Linked DNA regions of Homo sapiens: regions 1 and 2 are each linked to region 3. Evidence: fine-mapped expression QTL. A gene starts in region 3. Each other region holds a variant in brackets. All regions are shown on one strand. Distances are from middle to middle.

Region 1 (10,662 bases), 88 kb after region 3:
CCATGGCCTCCTAGAGCTCCAGGGACTCCTTCCGGAAATGAGTATCTTGGCCATGGAGAGGTGCAGCCCGCTGCAGGGGAGGGACAGTATGGGGAAAACAGTCCCACCTCTGGTTTGCTCGTTTGATATTTCATCAAAATTCCCAAACCTGTGCCATGCTCTTCTCTAGTTGGGGAGGAATTGGGTTCATCTCCCACTGCTTGAAGGAGGCAGCAAAGCTTCTGGGGGCATTCCCAGTGCTGGGAGCTACTGCTCACTGGGCCTGACTTCTCCCCTGCAGATGCCCATCTATGTCACCGGCATCACCAACCACCAGAACCCTTTCTCCTTTGGCAATGCCGTGCCAGGCCTGACCTTCCACTGGTCTGTCACCAAGCGGGACGTCCTGGACCTCCGAGGGCGGCACCACGAGGTAGGTAACCACCCCCTCCAGAGCTCACCTCCCACCCCTGTCCCAGGCCAGCACCCCGAGTGGCAGGGAGGGTTCCTGCCACATTGTCCCACAGGAAGTCCCCACCCTCACACCTAGAGAGGCCCGCCCACTTTCTTCCCTCTCCCGAGGCTCATCGGGACTCCCTTCTCCCAAATGCTAAACACATAGACGGGGTGAGTAGGTGCCTCTCCCAACAGAAGCAGCCGTGTGAGGAAGTCACAAAAGTCCTGGGAGGTCAGAGTCTGCAGCTTCTGACCATTTTCTGAGATGATGCCTGGCAGCCCTCGGTTTCTCCTGGTTCATCCCAGAGGCCAAATTCCCCTTCCCTTAGCCCAGCGAGGGGCCCTGGCTTCTCCTAAGATGTCAGAGCTGGAAGGTGCCAGGGAGACTACTAAGTCTGTCTGTGTTAACTGAGGCCAGAAACGGGAAGGGACTTGCCCAGGGTTGCCCAGCAAGCCAGTGGGGAAATGGTACTGGGCACCAGCCCCTGTGACTCTAGGCCCAAGCCCAGGTGGGCCTTGGACACACAGGACCCAAGTGGAGGGTGGCTTGAAAGGTCGCTCCCTGCCTGATTCAGGGACAGTGGGGATGGAGGCCTGGAAAGAGACCAAAGCCCAGGGATAGGATTTCCTAAAGGCTGCCTGAAGCTTGTCTAGTGTGGGACGAATGCCCCCCGACCCCACCCAGTGGGAACAGAGTCCTGTCCCTGGTGCCCGGGGGCTCCCCCAGATTGCTCCCATGGAACACAAACAGTGAGACTTATTAGCAGATATCCCCAAACAGAATAGTCTGCAGGGACACACTGCAAAACCCAGCATCGCTCTGGGTGACCTAGAAGCACTGAAGTCTGAGGGACATCCTGTCATGAAGGCCCCTGGCTTACGTGGGTGGGCCCAGTGTTTTCCAAATGCATCTGTGCATGTTGTGCGATGCAGGCAGGGCAGGACCCGGGCACCCATGCTGGGGAAGCCGGGTCTGCACAGCTCTGGGGTTAGCAGACCCAACCCAGGCAGGAAGGCAGAGCCCTTGAGAACAGGCCAGCAGCTACCAGGACTGGGGGGCTGGGGGGTCTGGGGCTACTGTCCGGCTCTGCCTTTTTGAGGACACAGGGGCCTGGGCCTTACCCCTGAAAACGTGTTTGATGTCTTCCCAGGCGTCGATCCGACTCCCGTCACAGTACAACTTTGCCATGAACGTGCTCGGCCGGGTAAAAGGCCGGACCGGGCTGAGGGTGGTGGTCAAGGCTGTGGACCCCACATCGGGGCAGCTGTATGGCCTGGCCAGAGAACTCTCGGATGAGATCCAAGTCCAGGTAGGAGGCAGGTGGAAAGGCCACAGGGAAGGGGGAGAGGAAGTGCCAGCTGCCCAATCTTCCTTCGGGGCCACATGTTGCATGGGCAGGGGCTGAGAGACCTGAGAAGCTCTCAGTCCGTGGGGATGACAGTGGTCCATCGCAGTGGGGTAAACATCCGGGTGTGATTGGTGCTATGGGAGCCCAGAGGTGGGGCCAAGCAAAGGCTTCACAGAGGAGTAATGTTTCAGGATGGGAGGGGCTGGCAAAGGCCTGGAGGTGGGAACTCACTTGATGTGTGGCCAAAAGAGCAAAGAATTCTGAGCTTGGGGCTCACTGTGTCTGAGTGGCTGATAATTTAATCGTTTGTGTTTATTTAACACACATAGAGCACCCAACAGAGGCTGGGGCGCCCTTGCACGTTTTTCAGTATTGCTGCCTCCAGTCCTCAGGTGAAGCCTGCGGGGCAGGGGCTGCAGGGGCTGCCACCTGCTGATGCCCCTGAGGCGGGGAGGGTCAAGGTCACAGGGTAAGTTGGGGGTGGCCTCAAGAGGCCTGGGGACTGTGCCCTGTCTGCATTTGGAAAACAGCCTCAGAGAGGGAGGCGCCTTGTTCAGAGCCAGGGGTCAGGACTGCGTCTAGTGGTTCTCCTGCCTGGGGTGCAGCCCTGTGTCTGTATCCAGCCTGTCCCTGCTACTTATAGGATGGGCTGTGGGCGAGTTCCTGCCCCTCTGGGCCCCTCTGCAAGGTGGAGAGTTGGCAAGTTGGCTCTGAAGAGCATTTTTGTCTTCAAGGGCCTCGTTCTGCTCCTCTGGGCCTCAGTAACCCCTGGGTGCTCCTAAGCTGTAAAGAAAAACAAAAAGTGTTCCTTATATGTCCCAAGAAAAGAAACAGTTTCTAGTCCCCGCCTCAAGAAGAAATAAACTATGTCTAACCCAAGCACCTCCCTGATCAGGGGCAAAGAAGCAAACTTTTCAAGAAAGAAACACCCACAAAAAAACCCCCACCGATCTGCCAACCCCTCACCCCTGCCTGCACATGCACACACACACGACACACATGCACACACAGACACACATACATAGAGACACATACATACAACACAGAGGTACACATGCACATCCCCACACTCACCAAATGCATGTTCTTTGTTAAAAGGAAGTAAGTCCTGGAGCCTATCATGGAATTAAAGGCAGGGTTTTGCAGCTTCCAAATTCTGTAACCTCAGTTGGGTCACTTGGCAGCTCTGTGCCTCTGTTTCCCTATCTGACAGCAGGTAGAGTTTGAGTAAATCAGAAACTAGAGAATCTGGATCCAGCCTACAAACGTGTTTTATTTGGCTCACTCAGGCCTTTGAGACAGCTTGTTGTCATGTAAAGATAGGAAGATTCCAGGTAAAAATCTAAGATGCAGCATGTCCTAAAGATATGGTGTCTGCCACAGCAAAATCAGCAGGCAATGAGAAGCAACCTTGACTCCATTAGAGCTGCACTCTCCAGTTTGCCACAGGCCCCGCCACTCCCTGTTTTCTCCCTGACAGTGATATCAAGTATCAGTTGCCATTTACCATGGTGCTCATGCTGTTGCTTTTCTTATAGTTAACAGGAAAGTGGGAAATATCTTACAACTCCCCCTCCATCTAAAGAGAGAAAATAGGAATGCATGGTTTAAAAAAAAATAGAAGGAATCCTATTTATGAATGTATTTACCAGGCAGTAAGTGTGTCCGAGTCAGACTCAGTGAGGTGGCTTCCGTGTGGATGCCGGAAGGGGGCATCCGAGTCAGCCTCGTCTCACCTGACGCCAAAACCCCACCCAGCTCCCAAAGGCTGTTTCTCACCGTTTGGGAAGTGTTGTTCCTCCTGTCACCTCATATGGAGCCCACAACTCTCAAGACAGGCATGGAGAGGACGTTAGTTGTGGACCATGTTACACACAAGGAAATCTAGGCTTACGTGGACAGAGCACAGAGGAGCTGGGAGGGGTGGAATCAGGCCATCTTCCTCTCAGAGAATCACTCGTCAGATCCGATGATATTGGCCATGGCCCAGGGCTCAGGCCCGAGGGGTGTCCACCTGGTCTGATCAGAGGCCAGTGGAGAGCTCAGGGCACAGCTTTACCTGCCAGCGAGTGGTTGCCCCTGAGCCAGGCTGGGAGGCCGAGGAGGCAGCAGCCCTGAGGGGCCTGAGAGAGGGGACTTACACAGGTGGTGGACACATCTGAAGTCTTGCAGAGAAGGGGCCTGGAGTTCCCAGGTAAGTGCTGTTGCCATGGGCTCGGGGAGCCACCAGGGCCTTGGAGCACTTGGGCGTCCCAGGATCAGATCTGAGCCGACCTCATGAGGCTGATCATTTGCCGGACTGAGCTCCTCACCAGGCCCCTGTGTGTGTCTATGTGGATCCTGCAAGAACATGGCCAGAGCCAGCCAGAGGAGCCTGGGAGGTGGAACGGGGGTTGTTCTGAGATGGTGGCAGTGAGGAGCAGGATGTCTCTGTGAGAGAAGGGAGCAGTTCGGTGGCACCTTGCCCAGGCTCAGTCCTGGCACAGTTATCCTGAGCAAACCCTGGTGCTGGAGTTGTGTGTGCTGCCCTCCGCGCTCACATCCTGGCAGGTAAAGTTCTTCCTCACTGGGCACGGAGGGAGAGGCCTGTGTTTCCAGGCTCCTTGAAGGAGCTCCCATTAGACTACACAAACATGAGCCTGCCTGTCTTTTCTCATCATATCTTTGGCCATGTGTGTGTGTGTGTGTGAGATAGGGTCTTGCTCTGTTGCTCAGACTGGAGTGCAAGCCTCAGCCTCCCAAGTAGCTGGGACTACAGTTGCACACTCCATGCCTGGCTAATTTTTAAAATTATTTTGTAGAGACTGAGGGTTTGCTGTGTTGCCTTGGCTGAGCTACTCTACCCGGCCACACCTTTGGCCTCTTAAAGGTCAGCCCTTCACATCATGTCATCAGTGACCTGACAGACGAGAAAGCCGCTTTTCTCCTCTCTGGCCCCTCCTCGGCTCTTGCTGCTAGGAGAGAAGCAGACATCTGGCCTGAATGTGACTCCAGTGCCCCATCGGAAGTGAAACTTGCCCT[C/G]TCTTGCAGGTGTTTGAGAAGCTGCAGCTGCTCAACCCTGAAATAGAAGCAGAACAAATATTAATGTCGCCCAACTCATATATAAAGCTGCAGACAAACAGGTACGTGACTCAGCTCTTGTTTCCAGCAAAGTTGTGCGGCTGTGCTTGCATCCGACACCTCATGTGTCAACACTGTCAGGAGCCATGGGTACTTTCAGGGAGGTTTTCTCCTGCTGTGCTTGGAATGGGTGAGGCCTCTGCCTGCTCCTTCTCTTCTCTGTGGTGCTCCTCTGCTTCTTGAAATCACTTCTCACTGTGGGTCTCTTTTTCCTCCTTGTAGCCTAGAAACATTTTTATGCGAGGTACTAAAATTCAGTCTTTAAAAGGGAAAAAAACACCAGCTTAGAAATGTTGTGTTTCAAGACTTGCCACTCAGAGTGTAGCCCATGAGCCAGAAGCATCAGCATCACCGGGAAGAGAAGATGCAGCTCTCAAGCCCCACCCCAGACCTGCCCAGGGAGAAGCTGCACCCTAGGGAGATCCCCAGGCGAGGGGGCCGCACAGTAACGCTTGGGAAAAGCTGTTTAAAGCTCTTCTGCAAACCTAATTCCTACCTTTGATTCCAAGGGGATGCCTTTCGTAACAGTGGCTTGCATTTGAATGGCAGTTGCCAAGCGGGAGACTCCACGGGCCACAGGACACTTACATGTTGCATGAAACACATACATGTTTTCATTCAGCCAAAAGTAACAAAGTGCCAGGCTCCATGCTGGGCTCCAGGAACACAGATATGGGTGACATAGGGTGCCCCGGAGGAGGGTAGCAGGAGAAGGCTATTAAAAAGCAAGGTGTAGTATTCAAACCAGAGCCCAAAGAAGGGTGCTGTCCATGGGGATTTAGGGGAGGCATGTCCCAGATGGAGATGCTCGGGCTGCAGTTCTTGAAGGATGAATAAGAGTTCCCCAGGTTAAGAGGAAGGGGTTGGTGGGGGAAGAATGTTTAGGCAGAGGCAATAACATTTGCTCCTAGTCATCTATAGGGCTGTGGAAGAGACAGAGATGATGGAAACTAGCCGTGGGAGCTGGAGGCCTTTGCTTCCTGGGTTTCTTTATTATATTAATAAATATGTAAAAGGGTAACAGATACGGCATAATTTGCTTCCTACCCAGTACATAGTATCAGTAGTTTGCTAACAGTTTTCTTAGCGGGTAGTCTGTTTTTATCCTGTTGACAGTCCTTAGAAATAGGACAAGACAGGATCATTACACACCTTTTACCAAGTAAGAAGTCAACGCCGAGAGAAGAGGGGACATAATGTGCACACAGCTGGTGGCAGGACATGTTGGGACCGGCTTTGGATTCTGTCGGACTCAAAGCCCCATCCTCCACTATGCCAGGATGCCTTGCTTCAGTAAATTGAGAACAATTTGCTGCAGAAATGATATTTTACAGTAGATGTCCCATGGAGCTGATGAAAGAAACTGCCCTCATAGTCTCTCCCTCCCTGCTGGCTGACCCACGGCAGGCACTGCTCTGGGAAGAGTGAGACGCCACACTTTGCTCGGAACCATTGGATTTCTGAATTACTTTTCCGTGGGTGACTGATGAAGCCTCAGACAACTGACGGCACGTGGTCCTGAGGTCCGTGGGGCCAAGATTGGGCCTTTTTTCCTCCCAGGAGCATGAGGAGCCACAGACTCTTAGATCTCCTGGCATTGTATCCAGGCCCACTCCCACTGCTGCCATCTACAAAAACAGCTCTGTTTTGTTTTCCAAAGGGATGGTGCAGCCTCTCTGAGCTACCGCGTCCTGGATGGACCCGAAAAGGTTCCAGTTGTGCATGTTGATGAGAAAGGCTTTCTAGCATCAGGGTCTATGATCGGGACATCCACCATCGAAGTGATTGCACAAGAGCCCTTTGGGGCCAACCAAACCATCATTGTTGCTGTAAAGGTAGGGTTGCATTCTCCTCCTTTTTGGAGTAATGAAAGCAATAGCACTGAGGTAATATGCCTCTCAGGTGTAAAAGTGAATACGTTCACCTTCCAGCTAAGAAACTGTAGACAGGCATTTAGAGTAACTCAGGGGCAAAGGTCCTAGGTAGATAAAAAGCTACAGCATCTTCTGGTCATCAGAGCCGAAGATCCTTGGGAAATCATTGATTCCAAGAACTTCATTTCATAGATGAGGCCCAGCAAGGTCCATGATTGGCGTAAGGTTACAGAGCTGGGACTGGCACCACAGCTTCCTGACTGGAGTGCGGGTGCTCCACCCACTGTGCCTGGCCACTGATGTTATCACCACCCATGGTGGAGCTCCTGTTCTGGGCCAGCCCAGTGTCTGGAACATGGTCTGTTCTTAAGAGCATTGAATGTTGTGCTCAGTACCTGCCATACAAGTCGTGACATCCAGTACGTGACATCCACTGTGGTTTTGAGAATGAGGTGGCCCATTTTCCAGACAAGGAGACTGAGGCTCAGAGTGAGAGTGACTTGCTTAAGCTTGCATGGGGGTTGAGTGATGGGGTCTGTCTGGTTTGGGCCGTGTCCTTCTGCCATATCATGGCACTGCCCTCTGCCGTTCTGTGTTCCTTACGGATGGGACCTTCTCCATCAGCATCCCTGGGTCAGGTCCTGGGGTTTTGCTGAATGGAATTTTCTTTCCATGTCTCATCATCACCACTTGCTGAACCCTGGATGACAGAAGACACACACTCACTTAAATCTTTAGACTCTGCCTGGGTCACAGACCTCTTTCATTAATTCACATCATTTTGTTTCAAAATGGGTGCCTGGCAGCAAATCCCCCGCTCTAGTTTTTGGTGAGTGAAAGTGACTGACTGCTCATCCTATTTCAACAAATATGTACTGAGCACTAGCTGTATACCAGACACTGCACCACTGAACTTTGTTAAAGAAATTCAGACCTTTGGAGCACTAGCTTTTGAGCGAGGATAGATTTTCACCTGGACTCAGAGAAACAAGGGCTGCTGTTTATGGAGCTCGGGTTCTTGGGCTCCAGAAATCCCCATTTCCCTCCTTCCCCTGGTGGCCTGCAGGGCATGCTGTGGCCTGCTTAGCGCTGCCCCTGCGATCGAGGAGGATTTCGTTTCTTTAAATGCCCCAAGAGCCAGGTTCTCTGAAGAAACTGGACATTTGCAGCCCAGGGGGCCCTCTTGCAATGTAAATAGTGATCTCATTTATTCAAGTCATGGATTGGGACACTCCTGGGTGGGTTTTCTCATAGAGAGGCCAGTCTGCTGTGTTGGGAAGTAAGAACCTTGTCACTAGGTTGGGACACTCTGGGGAGTGTGGCCTTTACTCCTCTCAGGACCCCTAAGTCCAGCCCTGCATTGTTCCTGAGGTGGATCCTGCTGGGGGCAGGTGTCCCCTCCTTGGGAGGTGGGTTTTCCTGGAGGCCAGTCCCTGGCACTGAATCCTCATCATACCTGTATGTTGTCCCTTAGGTATCCCCTGTTTCCTACCTGAGGGTTTCCATGAGCCCTGTCCTGCACACCCAGAACAAGGAGGCCCTGGTGGCCGTGCCTTTGGGAATGACCGTGACCTTCACTGTCCACTTCCACGACAACTCTGGAGATGTCTTCCATGCTCACAGTTCGGTCCTCAACTTTGCCACTAACAGGTAGGATGTGGGCAAGGGTCATTTCTCCTATGAAGTCCTGTCTGGTACCTGGTAGAGACAACTGGGGATAACACAGAAAGTCTGCTGCTGTTGAAGGAAGATGTGTATTACTTCAGTTTCCAAGAGATGTGGGCATGCTGCACCATGCAGGGCCACGAGGAAACACCACTGCCCTTGGGGGATGTAGACCAGCTCAGAGGAAGACAGACAGGCATCAGCCCCCAAAGGAGGAAACAGGGCATGGGGCAGCTCCAGGGAGTGCTCCCCGAGGCACAGGAAATTGGCCCTTCAGCTTCGGCTGCCCACAGGTCCTGCCACAGTTGTGTTTCCCTGTTGCTGAATGCATTCAAAGACAGGTGTCAGGGGTGTTGCCTTATGGAAAGAACTGGGGTTTAGAGTCAGGCCTGGTTCTAGCCCCAGCTCTGCCCTTCGTGGGCCCTGTGAGTAGGTCACCATCCAAAAATCTGTTTCCACACCTCTCACGTTGGGCAATATGGCCTAGGTTCCAGGGCTTTCCTTCAGCTGAGGGAGTGGTCATGAGGACCGCTGGCAAACCATGGCACTCCGTGTGTGCGCACATAATTGCCATCCATCAGTTTAGGGCATGTCCTGGAGGAAATGGAGCCCAGTTCTCCCAGCCCTTTGGCTGCACTGCAGGTCATTCTGGCCTTCTTGTAGCAGGAGCACCTGATAGAGACCTAGTCAGCACTCAGGGTCAGAAGGTGTGGTGGAGGCAAGGATGCAGCCATGATCCCTAACCCAAACTGTCACCCCACGCAGTCCACACTTCTGCACCAAAGCTGCCATTGCCAACATTGACTGAGCACCTGCCCTGTGGCAGGTGCCTCCCCACTGCTGACCTCATGTAATGCTTATGCCAGGCCTGCGTCACGGTCACGTGATGATCCCCATTTTTCAGAGGAGGAAAGGGGCAGAGGCTGCTTCTGCAGTCAGGTTGCATAGTAAGGGCAGCCTTCCCTTTCTGGCATGTCCAGTTCCCTGGTGGGAAGAGCGTGAGGAAGCACTCTGGATCTCTTTCCCCTCGGGGCCTCAGCTTCCTTTCTGAAATGCAGGAATGATGCTGCTGCCACTGTTTGGCTGCGAGCTGCATGTGCTTTCTGGCATGACAAGTGAGGAGGTCGAGCCTGTGCCACCTGCCTGCAGTGGTCCCTCATCTGGGGCCACTGCTTGGTAACCTCGAGTTGGGGCCACACCTGGGACCTCAGTCAGTTGAATGCTTTGCTCAGCAGAGGACATGGATTACGTTTCTCCCTTTGGGAGTTGGAAGCTTCTTTCCCGAGACTGAGAGCCCTCCTTTCTCTCCTGTGCCTAGAGACGACTTTGTGCAGATCGGGAAGGGCCCCACCAACAACACCTGCGTTGTCCGCACAGTCAGCGTGGGCCTGACACTGCTCCGTGTGTGGGACGCAGAGCACCCGGGCCTCTCGGACTTCATGCCCCTGCCTGTCCTACAGGCCATCTCCCCAGAGCTGTCTGGGGCCATGGTGGTGGGGGACGTGCTCTGTCTGGCCACTGTTCTGACCAGCCTGGAAGGTAAGATAGATCCTGAGCAAGGGAACCTGTGGAGTCACGGACGCTTGCAAAGCTGGGTGGGGGCTACCTGGGCAGGGGCTCGGCACCAGTCACGGGGGCCTACAGGCAGACCTGCAGGATACTCAGGAGCAGTGCTCCAAAACTGCTGCCCGGAGACCAGATCCAGCCTGTGCCTGTTTTCTGCAAGTAAATTTTTGTTGGCACTCAGCTGTGCCATGCATTATGTATGGTCAGTGGCTGTTGTCACCCTACCACTGCCAGATTGTGTGGTCATAGCAGAGATTGTATGGGCTGCATAGCCCAAATGCTTATGTCCGACCTTCACAGAAAGCATTTGCCAGCCCTTTTCTGGAACAGCTCTGCCAAGTCGGTGGGGGGGTCCCCTGCCCCTGTGGGGCATCCTGTCTCTGCATAGTCTCACTCAGTTCCTCTAGCCAGGAGACACACGGATCTCTGCTGCTGCTGAGGAACTGAATTCACCATTTTAGTGAATTCTGTGGGAAGTGGCCGCCATAGTGGACAGCACAGGCTGGGAGACTTAAGCAAAGAAGGACACTGGGCTAAATCAGGGGCTTCCAAATTTCAGCCATGCCCAGGTGACCTGTAGTACATCTGTGGAACACGTGTACAATTATTTACTTAGCTTTTATTTTCAAATTGTCTCCACCTTTTTTTTTAAC
Region 2 (10,181 bases), 110 kb after region 3:
TGATCGCTGCTCATTGGGGCCATGATGCAGGCTTTAGTTGCCCAGCTTTCCCATCTGTTCTCAACATGGCAGCCACAGGGGCTGTGCCCCTCTGCTCAGCAGCCTGCGCCAGGAGAAGAAGTGCCAGGGTACCAAGAACAGCTGTGGGCCCGGGCCTCCAGCAGGTGGCCTGGCCCTCTGAGACCACCATCCTTACATCTAAGAGGGACCTGTGGACTGCCCTGTAGACGTACAGTAGGGCAGGAACGTGATGGGATGCCACAGTGGGCCTGGTGGTTTTGGTAACTCATCTTCCCATTGATGGCAGATGGAGCCAGCCTCTTCCAGCACTTCCTGGATTCCTACCAGGTCATGTTCTTCACGCTCTTCGCCCTGTTGGCTGGGACAGCGGTCATGATCATAGGTGAGGAGGCTGCCTGTATCTCTGGGTCTGTTCCCCTGCCCCGACCTGCTCTAACCAACCCTGTGCTCTTGCAGCCTACCACACTGTCTGCACGCCCCGGGATCTTGCTGTGCCTGCAGCCCTCACGCCTCGAGCCAGCCCTGGACACAGCCCCCACTGTGAGTAGCCCCCCTGCAGGCACAACCAGGCAGAGCTGCTGAGAAAGAGAAGAGCCCTGGGGGAGGGGTCGAGGCTCCTGAACCCTAAGTCTCAACAGGCCCTTGCCTGGGCCAAAGGAGCCTGAGGCCCAGAGGACAGATGTGGGAGCCAGGAGGGTCGGGGCAGAGGGGCTGCCAGTCCTGGTTCAGCAAGAGCTTTCCCCAGGTAGAGCCATGCTGGGTGGAGGTATGGGCAGCAAGGAGCTCTGTCTAGGCAGGAGTGCATGCTAGGACTGGATGCCCAATTGCTGAGGCTGCCTCAGAAGGCTCTAAGCTGGGGTTGGACGAGCTGACTCACAGATGGGGATTCTGGGTAGTTCTGATGAGAAATTTCCCAGAAGAATGGGCAAAGTCATTTATTTCAATGGTCTAACTGTCTCTCTGGTGACCCCGAAGCCCTGGTGACCCTGCACAGCTCCAGGGAGCACCTCACTGTGTGAATGTAGTTTCTCTCTCAAACAATGCAGTGCCCAGCCTGTACTGCTGTACGTGAAGGCCCTTTAATGTCTCCTGATTCCCATTTGAGGGTTCTCTCCCCTACACAAAGAGTCCTCGAGCTCGTGTCTGCTGACATGGGGGCCCATGGACCGGCTTCAGGGGGGTCCCTGAATTTTTTTGAAAGAAGACCCAGTTGTGTGGGTAGAAGCACTTTCCTGGGTAAGGAGAGCCCACACGCCCTTGTCTTCTGCCTGACGACTTCTCTACCTGCAAAGCGGCACCCAGGGGAGGCCACGGGTGCTCGGCCTCCTCGCGGCTCTGCTGCCTTCTGCAGCTGCTCTGGCAGCAGGTGCCTGCCCTTTCTAGCTGCCTCTCTCAGCGTGCTCCTCCCTGGGTTTTGGGAGCCACACCTGGATCTCTGCAAGGTCTCCGGAGCACTGCAGAATCGCTGCTCCCCTCGGGGTCTTTGTTCCTGTGGCGCTCTTGCCCGAGGCTGCATTGCATTCAGATGCACGGGGCCTCCCTGCCTCATGCCCCCTGGACAGATGCTGCTGTGGTCCTGAAACTTGAGACACGTTCTCCCCGGAAGGCTCTGCGCTCCTGGGTGTTAGGGTGGCATCCCAGGCCTCTCTGTGTGAATGAGGCCAGCTCAGCAGGTGCCCGTGGACTTCCCTCTGCTGGCCGGGGAGGCCTCGGGGCATCACTGTGAGAGTGTCCTGGGTGAGGCAGGCGCCTGCTGAATGCTGGCTGTAACTGAAGAGTGCGCCGCTTTCCCTGGCTCTGCTGCTAACATCGTCTCTCTTCCCACCCTAGATTTCGCTGCCTCATCACCCACATCTCCCAATGCATTGCCTCCTGCTCGCAAAGCCAGCCCTCCCTCAGGGCTGTGGAGCCCAGCCTATGCCTCCCACTAGGCCGCGTGAAGGTTCCCGGAGGATGGGTCTCAGCCGAGCCTCGTGCACCCCCAAGATGGAACATCCCTGCTGCATTCACACTGGAACAAGCCCCTCCAGATGAGTGCCCCGGCCCCAGGCCAGCTTCACTGCCGTCTCTTCACACAGAGCTGTAGTTTCGGCTCTGCCCATTAGCTCATTTTATGTAGGAGTTTTAAATGTGTGTTTTTTTCCTTTCAAGTCTTACAAAGCTAAGACTTTTTGGCTCATTCCTTTTTGCATGGTTGTCTAGGGTTTCTGGACAATGTGCTGTTGCATTTTTATTTTCCTAGCCTTGCTAAAATCTTTCCCTTCTCAAGACTTTGAGCAGTTAGAAGTGCTCTTTAGAAGTTGTCTGTGGGTGATGTTACTGTAGTGGTCTCAGGGAAAGGATTGTCCAGTTACTTTAGGGGGTTTTTGGTGGGGTTTTTCCCCCTGTGAAAACTTACTTTGCCCCTAGTCTGGCTGCTGCTAGGACTTCTGAGGAGCAATGGGACATGAGTGTCCCTGTATCTGCGCCACTGCCGCAAGGGAAGCCTCAGGAACCAGCACCTGGAGGCCAGGATAGCCAAGCCCTGGGTGAGCGAGAGGCTGGAGAACACAGGAGCTCACCCAGGGCTGCTGCCCAACCATGGGCCACTGTGAACAGACTTCAGTCCTCTGTTTTTGTTTCATAAGCCGTTGAGACATCTGATGGACTTGGCTTAGGCCCTGCTGGGACATCCCACGTGTGATCCCTTTCACTCCATCAGGACACCAGGACTGTCCTTAGGAAAATGTCCTTGAGATGGCAGCAGGAGTCATATTTTCTGTGTGTGTGTTTCGGAAAGCCGCTGTGTCCTGCCTCAGCACAAAGACCCAGTGTCATTTGCTCCTCCTGTTCCTGTGCCACTCCAGAACCTCAGCAGATCTGAGCCACCGCCTGCCAGTGTGAGAGGCGGCCACTTTCATGGCAGCTCATCAGGCGCAGGGCCCCAGACAGCTTCCCAGCAGGCCCTAGAGCCCGGCCTGGGCCAATGATGGAGGGCGGCCGCCAGCCCAGGGCCTGCCCATCCAGAAGGGACTCCCCAGGGCCTGGGGGAGGAGACCCTTGGAAAAGTCCTCTCTTCCCAGCTCCTGATTCTGGATCTGAGATTCTCAGATCACAGGCCCCTGTGCTCCAGGCCGAGGCTGGGCTACCCTCAGGGAGATCCAGAGACTCATGCCCATGGCCATCCATGCGTGGAC[G/A]CTGTGTGGAGAGTCCAGGATGACGGGATCCCGCACAAGCTCCCTTCAGTCCTTCAGGGCTGGGCCATGTGGTTGATTTTTCTAAAGCTGGAGAAAGGAAGAATTGTGCCTTGCATATTACTTGAGCTTAAACTGACAACCTGGATGTAAATAGGAGCCTTTCTACTGGTTTATTTAATAAAGTTCTATGTGATTTTTTAAGAGGGTGTGATCGTTGCTGAGATTTCTGTCTGATGGTGATGATTTCTTCCCTTTACCCATCTATGATACTCTGGGGCCTGGCAGAGCTGGAGGTCTGAGCTTTATTCTCCCCAAAGGGTGAGCATCATTTTCAAGCACATTCAGGTTGGCAAATGCAAGTGCATCTGGACGCAGCCAGATCTTGCCAGCAAGTGAGTGTGCCCAAGAAGGCACATTGACAAAACCAGGTGATGCCACACAGTTCAGCTTTCTGCTCCCAAGCTAACCAAGCAACTCTCTGTCTCTAATGGTTGCCAGAAAAGGCTTTTAGCACCATTTAGCACTAAAAATATAGTACATCATATAGATTGTTTTTTCTCTAGAATTCTTAAGTCTGGCCAAAAGTGAACTCTCGTTCTCTGTTTCTCTGTGTGTCTTTGTGCATGCTTACATGTGCATTCCTGCATCCTGGAAATGTTTTTTTGTTTTGTTTTGTTTTGTTTTTGTTTTTCGTTTGTTTTTGAGATGGAGTCTCGCTCTGTCACCCAGGCTGGAGTGCAGTGGCGTGATCTCAGCTCACTGCAAGCTCCGCCTCCCAGGTTCACACCATTCTCCTGCCTCAGCCTCCTGAGTAGCTGGGACTACAGGCGCCCGCCACCACGCCCGGATAATTTTTTGTATTTTTAGTAGAAACAGTGTTTCACCATGTTAGCCAGGATGGTCTCGATCTCCTGAGCTCGTGATCCGCCCACCTCGGCCTCCCAAAGTGCTGGGATTACAGGCGTGAGCCACGGTGCCCGGCCGCATCCTGGAAATGTTACATCACAAAGTCTGCGAACACTCAGTAGCAGGGAGCACTGAACCTGGGGTGTCAGGGGTGGGTAGCACAGGTCTAGGCTGGTGAGAGCTTAGCAATCAGGTGACCAGGAGTCTAGGTCCACTTTGTTCTGGGGCTGGAGAGAAATTTATCTCTCTGGGCCACAGTAGTTTCCTCACCTGCAAAAGGGCCCTCCTGACATGTGTCCTACCCACCACCTGCCCAGAGTGGCTCCCAGCAGGAAGCAGGTGCTTCCTGAGGGTCTGTCCCCAGACCCTCAGCCTCCCTCTGTGCACGCCCTCTCCCACATGCCTTTGCAGTTCCTTCTGCCCATTGAGGCTAGGTGTGGTCATGTGACTTGCTTTGGTTGGCATGGGTGAGAAGGACCATGGGTCTGTGCTGGGCATCCCTCACCCTCCTCATGCCCCTGCCATTGATGTAGTAATCAGGAAGCCCAGGTAGCTGCAGGTCCAAGCAGGAGGAAGGACACCTGCAAGGGACCTGCCAATCCCGGATCACCTGGCCTGCAGCCCACGGCTATGAAAAGAGTGATGGTTCCTGGGGACAGCGTGGTAGGCAGCAGTGTTGCAGCAACCTGTGACAGGTAAGAAACATGCTATGGTTCCCTTCTGGCTGAATCCAGTGAAGGCAGATGTTTTCCGTCTCTCATGTTCCCTCCCTTTGTGGATTCCCTCTGGGCTGTCTGGTGGGCCCTCTCAGCCCATCCTGCTGGGACAGGGTGTCCTGGGCATCCCTGGCCTCAGGCCTAGCCAGGCACCCAGTCAGGAGCCTCTGAGGACAGGGCACAGCAAGGCTGTGCGATGCTGGGCCTGCCCCCTCCTGCGCTCCCATCTCCTTCTTTGGGCAAGGGTGTGGTCAGCCACACACTAGAGGCTGCTATGGGGGTGGATGGGAATGTGGCTCCACAGGACACATCGCTCCATCATTGTGAGTCCTGTGCCCACATGAAACCATCCTGCCCAGCCTCACTCTCCATTGCAGCCTTATGGCAGGGCCACAGTGGGAGGGATGTTCTCAGGATGGTTTGTGGAATGAATGCATGAATGAACCCCCATGAAGGAATGTGATTCTGGGTTTCCCCAACTCTGGGTTCTACTTTCTGGAACATCCTGAGCCTCAGGTCAGTGTGGAGAGGAGCAGGGTTCAGGGGGGCAGGTGGAGGCTGAAACTCAGAACAGGCTGAGAGTGCCCACCAGACACAGCTCAGGGGAGAATTGGCTGAAGGGAGGGACCACAGGACAGAAAACAGAGAGGGCTGACTCAGTCTCTTCCAAACCACTCCTTTCAGCCAACTCCAAGCCACCTGGGCCAGCGCCAAATGAAGCCAACTTGACAGAACCACCTCTGGCCACCAGCATGGTTCCCAGCAGTCTGTAGATCCGTGTAGATGGCTGGAAGAAGCCGAGAGGCAGGGTGAATGCTCAAAGCCGCCGCTGTTTCCTGCACGCCACCTGCTAGCACATGCTGAGCGTTTCCAGTCACCAGCTCACTTCATCCCCGCCACAGCCCTAGGAGGCAGGCCCATCCACCTACAGATGGTGAAACCGAGGCCCACAAGGTGAAGCCACTCGCCTGGTCACACACTGGCAAGTGGCAGAACCAGGATTCAAATCCTGGTTGACTGGCACCAGAGTTTGCTCCCCCGATGTGTACCTTCTTCTGCCCTCCTGGGTAGGGGCATCCACTGTGGGAGCCTTGCACCCACTTCCCTCAGACCAGCTCAGCTGTGGACTGTCTCATGAATTATTTTATAATCATAAAGAAGAACTTTTGCTGGGCATGGTGGCTCACGCCTATAATCCCAGCACTTTAGGAGGATGAGGCAGGCAGATCACTTGAGGTCAAGAGTTCAAGACCAGCCTGGCCAATATGGTGAAACCCGGTCTCTACTAAAACTAAAAAAATCAGCCAGGCATGTGCCTGTAATCCCAGCTACTCAGGAGGCTGAGGCAGGAGAATCACTTGAACCTGGGAGGTGGAGGTTGCAGTGAGCGAAGATCACACCAGAGCAAGACTCCATCTCAAAAAAAAAAAAAAAAAAGAACTTTTAACATAAAAAAAAACTTTAACATAGAAAAATATTTTTTATAAGGAAAAATGCTTTTCATAAAAAATTAAAAGGCCTGGTGCGGTGGCTCATGTCTCTAATCCCAGCACTTTGGGAGGCCAAGGCGGCGGATCACAGGGTCAGGAGATCGAGACCATCCTGGCTAACAGTGAAACCCCGTCCCTACTAAAAATACAAAAAAATAGCTGAGCGTGGTGGTGGGACTGAGTAACGGGACCTGTAGTCCCAGTTACTCAGGAGGCTGAGGCAGGAGAATGGTGTAAACCTGGGTGGCGGAGCTTGCGGTGAGCCGAGATAGCACCACCGCACTCCAGCCTGGGCGACAGAGCGAGACTCCATCTCAAAAAAAAAAAAAAGAAAAAAAATTAACAAAAACTTTTTATAAAAAAAAATTTGGCTAGGCGCGGTGGCTCATGCCTGTAATCCCAGCATTCTGGGAGGCCGAGGCCGGCAGATCATGAGGTCAGGAGATCGAGACCATCCTGGCTAACACAGTGAAACCCCGTCTCTACTAAAAATACAAAAAAAAAAAATTAGCTAGGCGTGGTGGCGGGCGCCTGTAGTCCCAGCTGCTTGGGAGGCTGAGGCAGGAGAATGGTGTGAACCCGGGAGGCGGAGCTTGCAGTGAGCCAAGATCACACCACTGCACTCCAGCCTGGGCGACAGAGCAAGACTCTGTCTCAAAAAACAAATAATAATAATAATAATAATTTTTTGGCTGAGTGGTGGTTCATGTCCGTAATCCCAGCACTTTGTGAGGCCGAGGCAGGAGAATCACTTGAGCTCAGGGGTTCAAGACCAGCCTGGGCAACACAGGGAGCTCCTGTCTCTAAAAAAAATTTTTTTTTTTGAGACGGAGTTTCACTCTCGTTGCCCAAGCTGGAGTGCAATGGTGCAATCTCAGCTCACTGCAACCTCTGCCTCCCGGGTTCAAGCAATTCTCCTGGTTCAGCCTCCCGATAGCTGGGATTATAGGCGCCCACCACCACGCCCAGCTAATTGTTGTATTTTTAGTTGAGATGGGTTTTCACCATGTTAGCCAGGCTGGTCTCACTCTTGACCTCAGGTGATCCGCCTGCCTCAGCCTCTGAGACGGAGTCTCACTCTGTTTCCCAGGCTGGAGTGCAGTGGCACAATCTTGGCTCACTGCAACTTCCACCTCCCGGGTTCAAGTGATTCTCCTGCCTCAGCCTCCTGAGTAACTGGGATTACAGGTGCCTACCACCACACGTGGCTAATTTTTGTACTTTTAGTAGTGACGGGGTTTCACCATGTTGGCCACGCTGGTCTCAAACTCCTGACCTCATGATCTGCCCGCCTTGGCCTCCCAAAGTGGTGGGATTGCAGGCGTGAGCCACCGCGCCCGGCCGTTGTTGTTGTTGGTGGTGGTGGTGGTGGTGGTGGTGGTGTTTGAGACGGAGTCTCTTGTCACCCAGGCTGGAGTGCAGTGGTGCGATCTCGGCTCACTGCATCCTCTCCCTCCTGGGCTCAAGTGATTCTCCTGCCTCAGCCTCCCGAGTAGCTGGGATTACAGGACCTGCCACCACGCCTGGCTAAATTTTTGTATTTTTAGTAGATACAGGGTTTCACCATGTTGGCCAGGCTGGTATCAAACTCTTGACCTCAAATGATCCACCCACCTCAACCTCCCAAAGTGCTGGGACTACAGGCATGAGCCACTGTGCCTGGCCAAAAAAAATTTTTTTTAATTAGCAGGTGTGGTGGCACATGCCTGTAGTCCCAGGTACTCAGGAAGCTGAGACAGGATTGTTTGAGGCCAGGAGTTTGAGGCTGCAGTGAGCTGTGATGGAGCCACTGTACTCCAGGGTGGGTGACAGAGTCTCTACTACTGCTACCACCACTACTAATAATTTTTTATTAAAAATAATTTTTAATAAAAAAATGATAAACAATGTTTAACATAGAAAAAATGTCTCATAATTTTTTTTATAAGAAAAAAGTTTTGGGCCCAGTGCGGTGGCTCACGCCTGTAATCCCAGCACTCTGGGAGGCCGAGGTGGGTGGATCACGAGGTCAGGAGAGCAAGACCATCCTGGCTAGCACAGTGAAACCCTGTCTTTACTAAAAATACAAAAACTTAGCCAGGCATGGTGGTGGGTGCCTGTAGTACCAGCTACGCGGGAGGCTGAGGCATGAGAATGGCATGAATCCAGGAGGCTGAGCTTGCAGTGAGCCGAGATCGCGCCACCACGCTCCAGCCTGGGCGACAGAGCGAGACTCAATCTCAAAAAAAAAAAAAAAAAAAAAAAAAAAAAGTTTTGGCCGGGCGCAGTGGCTCACACCGTAATCCCAGCACTTTTGGAGGCTGAGGTGGGCAGGTCATCTGTGGTCAGGAGTTCGAGACCAGCTTGGCCAACTTGGTGAGACCCTGTCTCTACTAAACACAAAAATTAGCTGGGCGTGCTGGCATGCGCCTGTAATCCCAGCTACTTGGGAGGCTGAGACAGGAGAATCGATTGAACCCGGGAGGTGGAGGTTGCAGTGAGTCCAGTGAGACTCCATCTAAAAAAAAAAGAAAGAAAAAAAAGGAAAAGAAAAAACTTTTAACAGAAAAGTACAACAAATAATTTAACAAACCCCCATGCCTACTACTCAATGTAGGCTCTTGTTAGCATGATCTCATAGGCTTCCAAGGTGTGTTTTGTTTTGTTTTGTTTTTCAAAAAATAGACAGAAAAAAACTACTATTATAACTTGTCTCATTTAACCTCTACGTTCTAGCCCTTCGTCTTTTTTTTTTTTTTCTTGAGATGGAGTTTTGCTCTTGTTGCCCAGGCTGGAGTGCAATGGCACGATCTCAACTCGCTGCAACCTCCGCCTCCCAGATTCAAGCAATTCTCCTGCCTCAGCCTCTCGAGTAATTGGGATTACAGGTGCCCGCGACCACGCCTGGCTAATTTTGTATTTTTTTAGTAGAGACGGTGTTCTCCATGTTGGTCGGGCTGATCTTGAACTCCCGACCTCAGGTGATCCACCTGCCTCGGAATCCCAAAGTGCTGGGATTACAGGAGTGAGCCACTGCACCCGGCTCTTGTTTTTCTTTTCATAGGCTACTACTTTTATAAAGTTGGAGACAATCTTTCCAAAGCAACTCTTATTGTTAAAAAGCATCAGTAAGTCTGGGTGCAGTGGCTCACATCTGTAATCCCAGCACTTTGGGAGGCCGAGGCAGGCGGATCATGAGGTCAGGAGATCGAGACCATCCTGGCTAACACAGTGAAACCCCTTCTCTACTAAAAATACAAAAAAATTAGCCAGGCGTGGTGGTGGGCGCCTGTAGTCCCAGCTACTCAGGAGGCTGAGGCAGGAGAATGGTGTGAACCCGGGAGGCGGAGCTTGCAGTGAGCCGAGATTGCGCCGAGATTGCGGCACTGCACTCCAGCCTGGGCGACAGAGCGAGACTCCATCTCAAAAAAAAAGAAGCAAAACCCGAGGTCACAGGCTGGGTGATCGTCTATCACGTTGTTAAGTTTTCTGTTGTATGTAATTAGCAAATGAACCTCTGCGGAAGATTTCATAGCTCATCAGGCGACCACTTCCATTTGGAGAGGCTTCACTGAAAGCCCATAAAGACCACTGACAAGAACCAGGAAAGTTGGAAAGTGGAATCTGAAAGACCCCTTGCTTCCTTGCTTTCAAGCATAGTAGCTTCCTTGTTGGGGTCTTTCTCAGTGGACGGGGGAGAGTCGGGGGGCAAGAGCAGCGGCCAGCGAACCTGGTGGATGGGGCCCAGGTGCAAAGCAAATCCTGCCTCTGCCACTCACCTGCTGGATGACCTTGGAACCTTCATGTTTGAGCCTCAGTTTCCCTGTTTGCAAAATGGTAATTATATGACCTTCGTAGCATTGCCACGTGGGCGTAATTACTGAGTTGAACCA
Region 3 (10,662 bases):
TCAGTCTGATTCAAATGCTAATCTCATCCAGAAACACCCTCACAGACACACCCAGAAACCATGTGTTGCCAGCTATCTGGGCATCCCTTAGCCCAGTCAAGTTCACACACAAATTAACCATCATGAAAAGGGATCATGCTGTTGGTAGTTCTAGAAAGCAAGGAGTAGAGAGCCTGTACTCTTGCAGAGTTGGTGGCCTGGTGATGTCTGAGGACTCCCTTGTGTATCCAGCTAGGTTTGCTGGAATCAGATTGAGGTGGCTGGGATAACACACGTGCGCTTGGACTTCCAAGGCAGGCTGAAGGTGTGACAAGCTGGCTGCCATCACTTATTCTGCAGCCATCATCCTCTAGTGATGCCTGTGGGGAAGGACCCAGGGGCCCACAGGAAGCAAACAATTGCCAATCCTGGCAGAGGCTGAAGGTGGCAAGTGTGAGGAACACATTCTGAGGAAGAGTAAACGCATCCAGAAAATGGGCCCCATGAGCAGGAGGCATGTCTGGGCATTGACTTGAGCAGCAATTTCTGTAATTAAGTGTTGCCATTCTCTTAAGTATGATGGGGTTTTGGAAAGCACTTTGCAAAGGTGGAAGCCATTCCAGTGCTCCTGGTGTTTTACTTCTTTTTTGTTTTGCCCAAAGCCAAGGTTTCCAGCTCAGAGGTGGTGCTGAAGGTCCACAGTGGGTGTCCCTTTCCTCCATTTCCAGAGTCCATGACCAAAGCCTGGGGGCAGACTTGTGAGAGGCGGAAACCCCCATTGCTGCTGCAGTAGGGCCCAGGCTAGTGGGGACTCAGCTTGGGGGTGTCTGAAAACACAAATGTCTACTCCAGAGGTCAAAGGGCAACATTTAAATTCAGGGAGAAAAGGAGAAATGGGGAAGGAAGCCTATAGATTGAAAGAGCCTTAAAAGACATTTCAATCAATTGCAATGTGTGAACTTTACTTATATCCTGATTCTGAAAGTATAAACTGTAAAAAGGTATTATGAATGTATGAGACAGTTGGAAATTTGAACTCTAATAATATTTTATGACCATAAGATTACTGTTAACTTTTTTATGTGTGATAATAGTATTGTGGTTATGTCTATAAAAGGGTCCTTATCTCTTAGCGATACAAACTGAAATACAGACGAAATGACAGGATATCTTGGATTTGTTTCAAAATGAGATAGGGTGGGGCCTGTGGTGACTGCAGAAGCAGCAGAATTGGCTGTGGATTGTGGCCACAGAACTGGACAGTCATGGGGCTTCATTATACCACTGTCTACTCTATGACTCTTTAAGTTTCCCCACTGCAGAATGATTCTTTAAAATTACTGTTTGGGCTGGGCACAGTGGCTCATGGCTGTAATCCCAGCACTTTGGGAGGCCAAGGGGCACAGATCCTTTGAGTCCAGGAGTTCGAGACCAGCCAGGGCAACATGGCGAAACCCTGTCTCTACAAACAAAACAAAACAAAACAAAAAGCAAAAATTAGCTGGATGTGGTGGCACACACCTATAATCCCAGTTACTCAGGAGGTTGAGATGGGAGGATGGCTGGAGCCCAGGAGGTAGAGGCTGTGGTGAGCTGAGATTGCACCACTGCACTCCAGCCTGGGTGACAGAGTGAGAGACCCTGTCTCAAAAATAAATAAATAAATGAAATACAAATAAAAATTACTGTTGTCACAAAAAGATGGTGGGTAGGCTCTAAAAGGACAACGTCCCCCTAGGAAAAAGTTAATTGCCTTGAAAAATCTCTCCATACTTGTATGCCCAAGGAGAAAGGTCAAGATTAGTGTGGTTTGTCCTTCACACTGTCTTGTGTTTGGTTATCTTCCCACTGAAGGCCCTGAGAGCAGGCCTTGGGCTCTCAGCCTTTAGCAAGAAATAGTATCCTGCGGTAATTTGAAGGCATTCTTTTGTTTCGCTGTATTTATTTTATGGCTACTTCTATTATATTTTGCAAACTGATAATGGCTTTTTATTAACAGAAGAGACAAAGTTTGCTTCTTAAGTAAATATATGTAAACACTTTGATTTAAAGACAGGAAATAACAGCACAAGTGGCACTCAGATAGATATTATTTTTTAAAATGTTTTAGGGTGGTAGAAAGTAACAGAAGTTTGGGAGACCCTGATGTGGGTCAGGAGACATTTTCCTATCTGGTTTTAGTTATCAGGTGGGTAACCGGCTCACTCAAATCTGTGGTCTCTTCCAGCCCAGAGGGTCTCTGTGCCAGGACAGAAGGCTGTGCTCAGGCCATTGTCCATGGCTGGCTCCCTGCATCTCAGATAAACACTGACACCCAAAGAAGGGGCCCAATGCCAGGGAGTGGAAACAGCCCACAGAGAAGGTGGGGGTGGCCCCTACACATGGACCCCTGGCTTGGCCCCAAATACCATCTCATACCAGGTTTGTAGGCAAGTGAAATGGGGTCTGGGGGCAAGTTTAAGGACAACGTAAAGGGATAAAATCTCAGATGGAAAATGTTTTACCCATCATTTTGTTGCCTTTTTTTTTTTGAGATGGAGTTTCTTGTTGCACATGCTGTAGTGCAGTGGCTTGATCCCAGCTCACTGCAACCTCCACCTCCCAGGTTCAAGTGATTCTCCTGCCTCAGCCTCCCCAGTAGCTGGGATTACAGATGCATGCCACCATGTCTGGCGACTTTTTGTATTTTTAGTAGAGATAGGGTTTTGCCATGTTGGCCAGGCTGGTCTCAAACTCCTGACCTCAGGTGATCTGCCCACCTTGGCCTCCCAAAGTGCTGGGATTACAGGTGACAGCCACCGCACCCGGCCCATTTTGTTGTCTTCCATGGATTGTTTTCTGCTGGGAAAATTTCCTGATTGCCTTAAATCACCTGAAACGTAGTTGTTTAGCAAGCTGTGTCCACTCAGATGTGTTTTGCTGGGCCTGTTTGTATGATTCTTTTTTTGAGATAATTGTAGATTACATGCAGTTGTAACAAATAACAAGAGAGATGCTATAATATGTGCCCTTTACCCCGTTTCCACTAGTAGACATCTTGCAAAACTATGGGATAATATCACAACCAGGAAATGGACATTGATACAGTCAAGCCACCAAGCACTTCCATCCCAGGGACTCCTCATGTTGACCTTTTATAGCCACATCACTTCCTATGCCACGCCGCCCCTGACCCCACAATCACTCACCTGCTCTATACTTCTATAATTTTGCCAACTCAATAATCTTGTATAAAAGCAAGTTTACAGTATGTAACCTTTTGTGCTTTTGTAGTGTTTGTTTTCCAGTCCGTATAATTCCCTGGAGCTTCATCCAAGATGGATGTATTAGCAGTTCATTTCTTTTTTTGCTGAATAATATTCCATGGCATAGATGTGCCACAGTATTTAATCATCACCCATGAAGGACCTCTGTGCTGTTTCCAGTTTGGGCCTATTTGATAAAGCTGCTATGAATGTTTTATGTACAGGTGATTGTGGGAACATCACTTTTCATTTCTCTAGGATATATGTCCAAGAGTGAGATTTACCTGCCTCGCAAGACATATGTATATGTATGTATATGTGCCATATTTCATATATACATATGTGTGTGCATGTATGTGTATGTGTGTGCATGTGTGCCATGTTTTATATATATATATGCTTGTTTATGCATAAAATTTCTCTGGATGTATACTCAAGTGGGAAACACTCATTGCCTGTAGGGAAGGGTATTGGGTGATGGGGAGGGAGAGGAATCACTTTCACTTGGAACCCTTTTGAGCCTAAGTTTCAACCATCTGTCTGGATTACCTGTTGGAAAACAAATCAATCTTGTGCAACCCAGAAGACACCCACAGACTTCCTCACAAATACCCTCTGAGGCTGCCTTTTCCGCGCAAGTCTGTTTTTTGTTTCTTCAAAGGGAGCCCGTTGGAATTCCCCTCCCAGAGCACCTGGTTCCACACAGGGCCGACCCTCACCCCCTTAGTTCTGGTTATCTCCAGAGATTTCCCCCAACACACACATTCCCTGGTCTAGGGCCCTCAGGCTTCGAGGGTGACCCCAAACACCCCGCATCACCATCCAAAAGCCCCATGATCCCTGAGGGGCAGGCTCAGCCTATGCGGGCCTCGCTGAAGCCCAGTGCGGTGTCTATGCCCAACCCAGGGGCCGCCGCCTCCAAAAAGCCTTCCTAGCCTTACTGACATTTATCCTCTCCTTCCTGGTCACCCAGTGGCATCGTTGTGTGTCTTCCTGGTTACAGTCAGCATCCACTTCCTGCACTCCTCAGACAGCCGGCCAGTGCACCCTCACCCCACCCTTTCCTGACCTCCCGCTAGGCTGGGCCTTCTCTGCAAGGCTAGATTCATATTTTAGCGGCACCAAGCAGTCAGGTGCCTGCTGACGCATGCCTTCATGCAATTCACGACAGACAGCTAAAAGCCACAGAGCACAGCGCGGAATCTAAGGCCTTCCATTGGTGTGCAGGTGGATTCCGCGGTGCTAAACTTTCTTTTGTGGGTGTGGGGGCCGTGGAGGGGGTTGTGCTCTGGCAGCGTTGGCGCCCTAAATGACCTATAGGTAACCTCTAATGGCTTCCGCAGGGGGTGCAGTGCGGAGGACAAGAGCTTGGGGCTCTCTGGCTGAGTGATCTGGGGGCCATTCAACCGGTTTTTTCCTGGAGAAATGGGAATCTTAAGGCCTCTCTGGAAAGGGTGTGAGGGGGTCGAGGGGGAGCGGGCCCCGGGCCTTCAGCGCTTCAGCAGGTGGCTTCCCTTTGCGAGCCCGGGGTCCCTCTTCTGGGAAGCATGGGCTGGGACAAGGCAGGCGCCGGTTTTCTGCATCCCAAATGTCCTGGGGCATGTGTCCCTTCCTTGCTGACCGTGGGTCCGGGCCAGAGCGCAAGGTCCAAAGCCGGCGGCTTGGCTCCACCGCCAGGGGCAAATACCAGGGCGGGATGCGTGCTGCGGGGCGCCCCGGGGGCTCCCCCTTGGGACTTCTAGGGTCCAGGGGTCCCCGCGGGCGCGCCCCAAGCCTTCTCCCTCAGCTCCGGGGGCCCGGGCGCGCGCCCATCCCCCAGCCCCGCGTCCCTGCGCGAGGGCCGGGCTGGGGGTGGGGTCGCCGCGAGCTCGGCCCCCAGAGTTCCCGCGCTCAGGCCCAGGAAGCGGCGGCCGCCGACGGCCCTCGCCCCGCCCCCGCGCTCATCACCTGCTGGCCTGGCGCGCGCGCGGGCGGGAGCGGAGGGCAACGGGGCGGCGCGGGCGGCCGGGCGCAGGGTCGCGGGAGGTGACGCGCGGCGAGGATGGCGGCGCGGGGCCGGGGGCTGCTGCTGCTGACGCTGTCGGTGCTGTTGGCGGCGGGCCCCTCCGCCGCTGCGGCCAAGCTCAACATCCCCAAAGTGCTGCTGCCCTTCACGCGGGCCACGCGCGTTAACTTCACGCTGGAGGCCTCGGAGGGCTGCTACCGCTGGTGAGGCGCGCGGCCGGGCCGGGCGGGCGCCGTGGGCCGGGCTGGGCCTTCGCGCTGAGAGGCTGGGCGGGCGCCGGGAGGCCGGCAGAGCCGGCAGGTGCGCGGCGCGCTCTCGCTGGGCGCTAGGCTGCAGCACTCGGAGCGGCGGGTGCGCGTGGGTCGCCACCACTGCTCATGTCATGGCGCCGTCCGGGCCTCCGCGCCGCTGAGGCGCGAGCAGAGCGGGCGCAGCCTGGCGGCCGTGACCCGCGTGTTCTGGGTTGTGCGGGAGGAGGGGTGGCCTGGGGAGCGGCGTCTGGGACCGCAGGGCCCAAGCCGGCCGGGCCCGAGCCGGCCTGACCCGGGAGGGGGCGCCGGGGCAGCTGGGCCGCACTTCCCTTGAGTCTGGGACCCCAGCTCGGGTTTGTCTGTGACCGCCCTCGCCCTGGCGTGGGAAGTGAGTCTGTGAAACGAAGCGCAGCGCCTAGCGTCGCGGGGAGGAACGGAGACCCTGGAGGAAAGGAGTTTTGGAGGGAAGCCCAGGGGCCGCTTTACAGAGGCGAAGTGAGACGAGGCAGGCCGGCGCTTCCCCTCAGGCTGCCTCGGCGCGGGTCCTGATGCTCAGGGCATTTCCATCACCCTCCCTCTCGGGTTGGGAGTTCTCCAAGGGGTCGGATGCGGAGTGTGACCCTGTGGAACCACAGGGACCCATGAAACCAGAGACCGACACTGACAGGGCGGTGCAGTCCAGCCCTTCCATTTTGCAGACCAGGGGAAATGGAGCTCCTGCCCCTGGCAAGGCTGCGTGGGCACGACTGAGCGCCCTTAGCTTCCCAGCCCAGCCGTCCTAGGGGTGAAAAGATGGGCTTCCGCCCTTCCCACCCCCAGGATGCTCAGTAGTTGCTCCCTTTATTTCTGTTTCAAGACTGGGTCAAGGTTGAGGCAGAACGGGGTGTGACCACGTGACAGCCATGTGTGTAAGCCTGGACATGTGTGTGTCAAGCCTGTTTGAGTATTAGTCTGTGCGTGTATGTAAGTGTGATGCCCGAAGCTCAGACCAGCCAGCTTTCTCTGTTGCTTGCACTATTTGCCCTATTTCTTTCTTTCTTTTTTTTTTTTTTTTTTTTTTTTTGAGACGGAGTTTTGCTTTGTCGTCCATGCTGACGTGCAGTGGTGCGATTTCGGCTCACTGCAACCTCCACCTCCCGGGTTCAAGCGATTCTCCCGCCTCGTAGCTGGGATTACAGGTGCAGGCCACCTGGCTAATTTTGTTTGTTTGTTTGTTTGTTTTTAGAGTGCACTCCAGCCCTTGTTGCCCAGGCTGGAGTGCAATGGCGCGATCTCTGTCCACTGCAACTTCCGCCTCCCCGGTTCAAGCGATTCTCCTGCCTCAGCCTCCCGAGTAGCTGGGATTACAGGCGCCCGCCACAACACCCAGCTAGTTTTTTGCATTTTAGTAGAGACGGGGTTTCACTATGTTGGCCAGGCTGGTCTCAAACTCTGGATTCACTGTGTTGGCCAGGCTGGTCTTGAACTCCTCAAGACCAAGGAGAACTCCTCAAGCGATCCACCTGCCTCAGCTTCCCAAAATGCTGAGATTACAGGCGTGAGCCACCATGCCTGGCTTGTCTGGCCAATTTTTGTATTTTTAGTAAAGATGGGGTTTCACTATGTTGGTCAGGCTGGTCTCGAACTCCTGACCTCAAGTGATCCCGCCGCCTCTGCCTCCCAAAGTGCTGGGATTACAGGCGTGAGCCACTGCACCCGGCCTGCCCTATTTCTTTTTTGAAGGTCTCCTTCCTGAAATCAAGACGTACTAGGTCAGCCCATTGCATTTTGGTTTTAGTGCTTTATGCACCTGGAGGCTCCTATTTCTGGCCTGATGCCAGAGGCTGAACTTGGGCATTAGGTTTTCTGTATCCCAGTCTAAGGCCTAGTCTTGTGTGGGAAAATCAGCTGTTAGTCAATACTGTGGCGGGGATACATGCTCATTCTCTTGTTGAAGCTGTCTGTCCTCTCAGTATGTGGGCAAGAAAGAGGAAACTGGTTATTAAAAACAGCTGGCTTCAAGTGAATCCCTTTGGATATATTTGTGTGTTACTTTCTCTGAGATTCTATAGCTGTACTTTTTTCTTTTTCTAAACTAACAACACTTTTTTCCCCCCCAACATCATTTTCTTTTCTGAGAGGAGCTGAAGGGTGTTGGTGGATTTTAATTTACTTGGTAGGAAAAAGGGAAAAAACATTCTTAATCTCTGATGCATCAGAGAAGTGCTAAGTACCTTATAACGTGTTTGGCGTTGATCTGTAGTTTGTATTGCAGATGTGTGACTGCAGATGTGTGACTGCTATTCAAAGTGTCTTCTCAGAGGTGTTTGGAAATTGTGATTCCCCCTTAACTTGACAGGAAGACATTCTGTCAATCAAGCATTGAGAATATTTTCTTTATTTTTAGTATTGCTGTTCCTAGTGTAGTCGTCTATTGCTGCAGTTTTGAAGAATCTGCTCTGGAGATTTTAAGAGCTGGCCTATAGACATATATCCACAGTCCTCTAAACCTGGGAGGAACATTACCTCTTCATCCAGAAAGTTCATTGTTAAGTCTCTCAGACGAAAAAGAAAATGAGAATTCTGCCAGACCCTGTGGGAACATTTGCACATCCATTGAATTTGCAGCTGAGCTCTAAGTTTACAGAAATCACTGTGTGTGCCTGAGCCAACAGCTTCATGTTTACTTTTCCTATTTTTTTTATTTTATAACATCAAAATTGGACAGTTTTCGGGCCAGGGGAACCTTAGAGGTCACCTAGTTTAAACAGCCTGTGTTTCATATAGGAAAACCTGAGCTCCAGAAGGGGAAGTGATCTCTGGGAAGTCTTGTAGCGATGGACACTGAGTTGGAGCAGGAGCTGCTGGGACCCCTCCCTGTCCCACGCCATTAGACCTGGGGACTGGCAGCCTCTGGCTAATTTGCCAGGCTCTAATTCTCTCCAACTGCACCCAGCCAGCACTGGTTTTGTGACAAGTTCCTGATTCCTTCTAGATATTTTGCATTATTGAAAGTGTTCCATAAAGTATATTACATTTGCTCCTTTTAAAGGTATATACAAAACGACCTCATATCAAAAACTGGGAGAACAGACGAAAAAGAAATCATGCCATAATCTTCCAGCTGTAATACAATCACAGGCAGCATTTTGGTTTCTTTTCGGTCACTTATGTTTCCTCTCCTAGCTCCTTTCTTACATTGCCTTGAACCTGGTTATTTGGGCACCTCGGGAACCTCCTCCCCTGCCAACACTGGCTAGCACTGAAGCCCAAGCACTGCTCTGTTGCTTCTTCCTGAGGGCTCCGTGTCTGAGCACCTTTCTGCTGGGTTGAAGTTGCCTCCTCATTGATTCTTTCCCTGTCATGGAGTCCCAGGGTATTCTGGGTGCTCCAGCAAGGGGGCGCTGTCTTGGAGAAAGTGAGTGGCTCAGATTGGTTTCCCAGGGGTGGAGCCTGAGGCAGGATTCTGCTGCCCTAGTTTACAGAGAAAGTGCTCTGTTGGGCAGCTGGATAGGGAAGGGAGGCTGCCTGCAGGTTGTCCTGCCTTCAGGCGAAGAGACCAAGCTTTGAGCTTTTGTACCCACTGTCAGGCAGCCATTGGTTCCCCTGGGGAAGGGGATGTTGTGCGACCTCCCGGGCCTCTGGCGGAGACACTCTGTTTTGAATTACGACCTGCAGCTCCCCTGGCTGAGGTGGGGAGGGGATGTGGACCTGCCTGGTGAACAACATCCAGACACAGCATGCACAGTGACTGCCATACCAAGCTGTTCACAGACTTCTCCTTTCCTGCCCCTGACAGTCTCTCCTGGGCACCTTGGAGCCATCTAACACGTGTGCCAGGCCTGGTCCTGCACCAGGGTACACCCTCTCTTATGTGGTCTGGGGCACTTCTCAGTCACAGGTGTAAGGATTCTCAAACAGGTAGATGGGAGTCCTTTCAGGGCCAGGGAGGGCACTGGTCCCTATGCCGTGGAGCTTGGCCTTGGGGCATGCTGTACCCCAGGCAGTTCAGATGACCCCTGGGGAGTCCCTCTTTGCTGAGGGGTGACTGTGGGAGGCCAGAGGCCAGCACTACCCTTGCGTGTGGATGTCCTGGGTCCCTCTCCCTGCCCCAGCAGGGGAAGCTGCAGCAAATCCCCTCACAGGCCTTCGTGGGTGAAGTTGGGCACTAAGGGTGAGGGATGCACGCTGAGCCAAGTCAGAGTGTCATCTGGCCTAGCTGGCTTCTGCTGGGCTCAGGGACCCTGAGCCTCTGGGACGGGCACGTCAGCAGGTCACATGCTGGAAACTTGCACAGGTGAGGCAACAGGGCCTGTAAGAAGTTGCCCCATAGTCAAAATAAAAAATTCACAAAGTGGAAACAACCCAAAAGAGGGAGTTGAATTCGACGGGAGGCCCCCAGTTTGCTCTTCTGTACCTCCTTCACTTGGCCTTCCCTGAGCCCACACCTGTACTTCTGCTCTTTTCGTTGAGAGTGTTTTCCCCTGTACCACTCAATTTGTGTGCATGCTGCATCCCCACACACCTAGGCCAAATCTCTGTCTCCTTCCTTATGCCTGGCCTTAGAGTCACAGGCTTTGGTCGATTGCGTTATCATCTGGGCCTATTTGATGGCATTTCTGGCAGTTAGAAAGTGGGGTGGAGAAACCAGAGCTCCCGCAGGGCCTGGGAGAGGGCACACGGTGAAGACCCGTCCTGCCTGAGCACCAGGGGACAAGCACTGATGGACGACACATATTTCACCGAGGAGGGCTGGAGAGTCACTGAATAAGAGGTGACAAATGTCTGTGACTCTTTTTATTTTTTGAGATGGAGTCTCGCTGTGTTGCCAGGCTGGAGTGCAGTGGCACGATCTCGGCACACTGCAACCTCCACCTCCCAGGTTCAAGCTATTCTCCTGCCTCAGCCTCTCAAGTAGCTGGGACTACAGGCACATACCCAGCTAATTTTTGTATTTTTAGTAGAGACAGGGTTTCACCATGTTGGCCAGGATGGTCTAGATCTCTTGACCTTGTGATCTACCCGCCTCAGCCTCCCAAAGTGCTGGGATTACAGGCATGAGCCACCACACCCACCTGTCTGTGACTCTTACTATGAGCCAGGCACTACTTGAGGTCCTGGGATGTGACAGTGAAGCAGCAGGAGATGCCCTGCTCTCAGGGACTCACAGTTGATTGCCGGAGTTAAACGGTTAATTAAGATG

What was found. PIP is the estimated chance that this variant, and not a neighbour inherited with it, causes the effect.
Region 1: its variant is fine-mapped to the expression of NUP210 in nasal epithelium (TOPMed, PIP 0.94).
Region 2: its variant is fine-mapped to the expression of NUP210 in whole blood (INTERVAL, PIP above 0.99).

Annotation. Positions count from the first base shown.
Region 1 is chr3:13,326,537-13,337,198 of GRCh38, reverse strand. NUP210 (nucleoporin 210) reads left to right here. Exons shown (of 40, transcript NM_024923.4): 27 at 281-412; 28 at 1,587-1,745; 29 at 4,815-4,906; 30 at 6,565-6,739; 31 at 8,253-8,428; 32 at 9,762-9,982. Among named protein-coding and RNA genes, the nearest start is that of NUP210, 88 kb to the left of the region's middle. RefSeq lists enhancers at 4,376-4,425, 4,746-5,105, 9,333-9,832, 9,833-10,334 and a silencer at 6,273-6,440. The variant C/G (reference allele first, on the strand shown) is at 4,806.
Region 2 is chr3:13,309,452-13,319,632 of GRCh38, reverse strand. NUP210 (nucleoporin 210) reads left to right here. Exons shown (of 40, transcript NM_024923.4): 38 at 308-403; 39 at 478-561; 40 at 1,852-3,398. The coding sequence ends at 1,952. Among named protein-coding and RNA genes, the nearest start is that of NUP210, 110 kb to the left of the region's middle. The variant G/A (reference allele first, on the strand shown) is at 3,198.
Region 3 is chr3:13,414,830-13,425,491 of GRCh38, reverse strand. NUP210 (nucleoporin 210) reads left to right here and starts at 5,170. Exons shown (of 40, transcript NM_024923.4): 1 at 5,170-5,432. The coding sequence starts at 5,266. RefSeq lists silencers at 4,936-5,335, 5,386-5,955 and enhancers at 8,748-8,817, 8,878-9,027.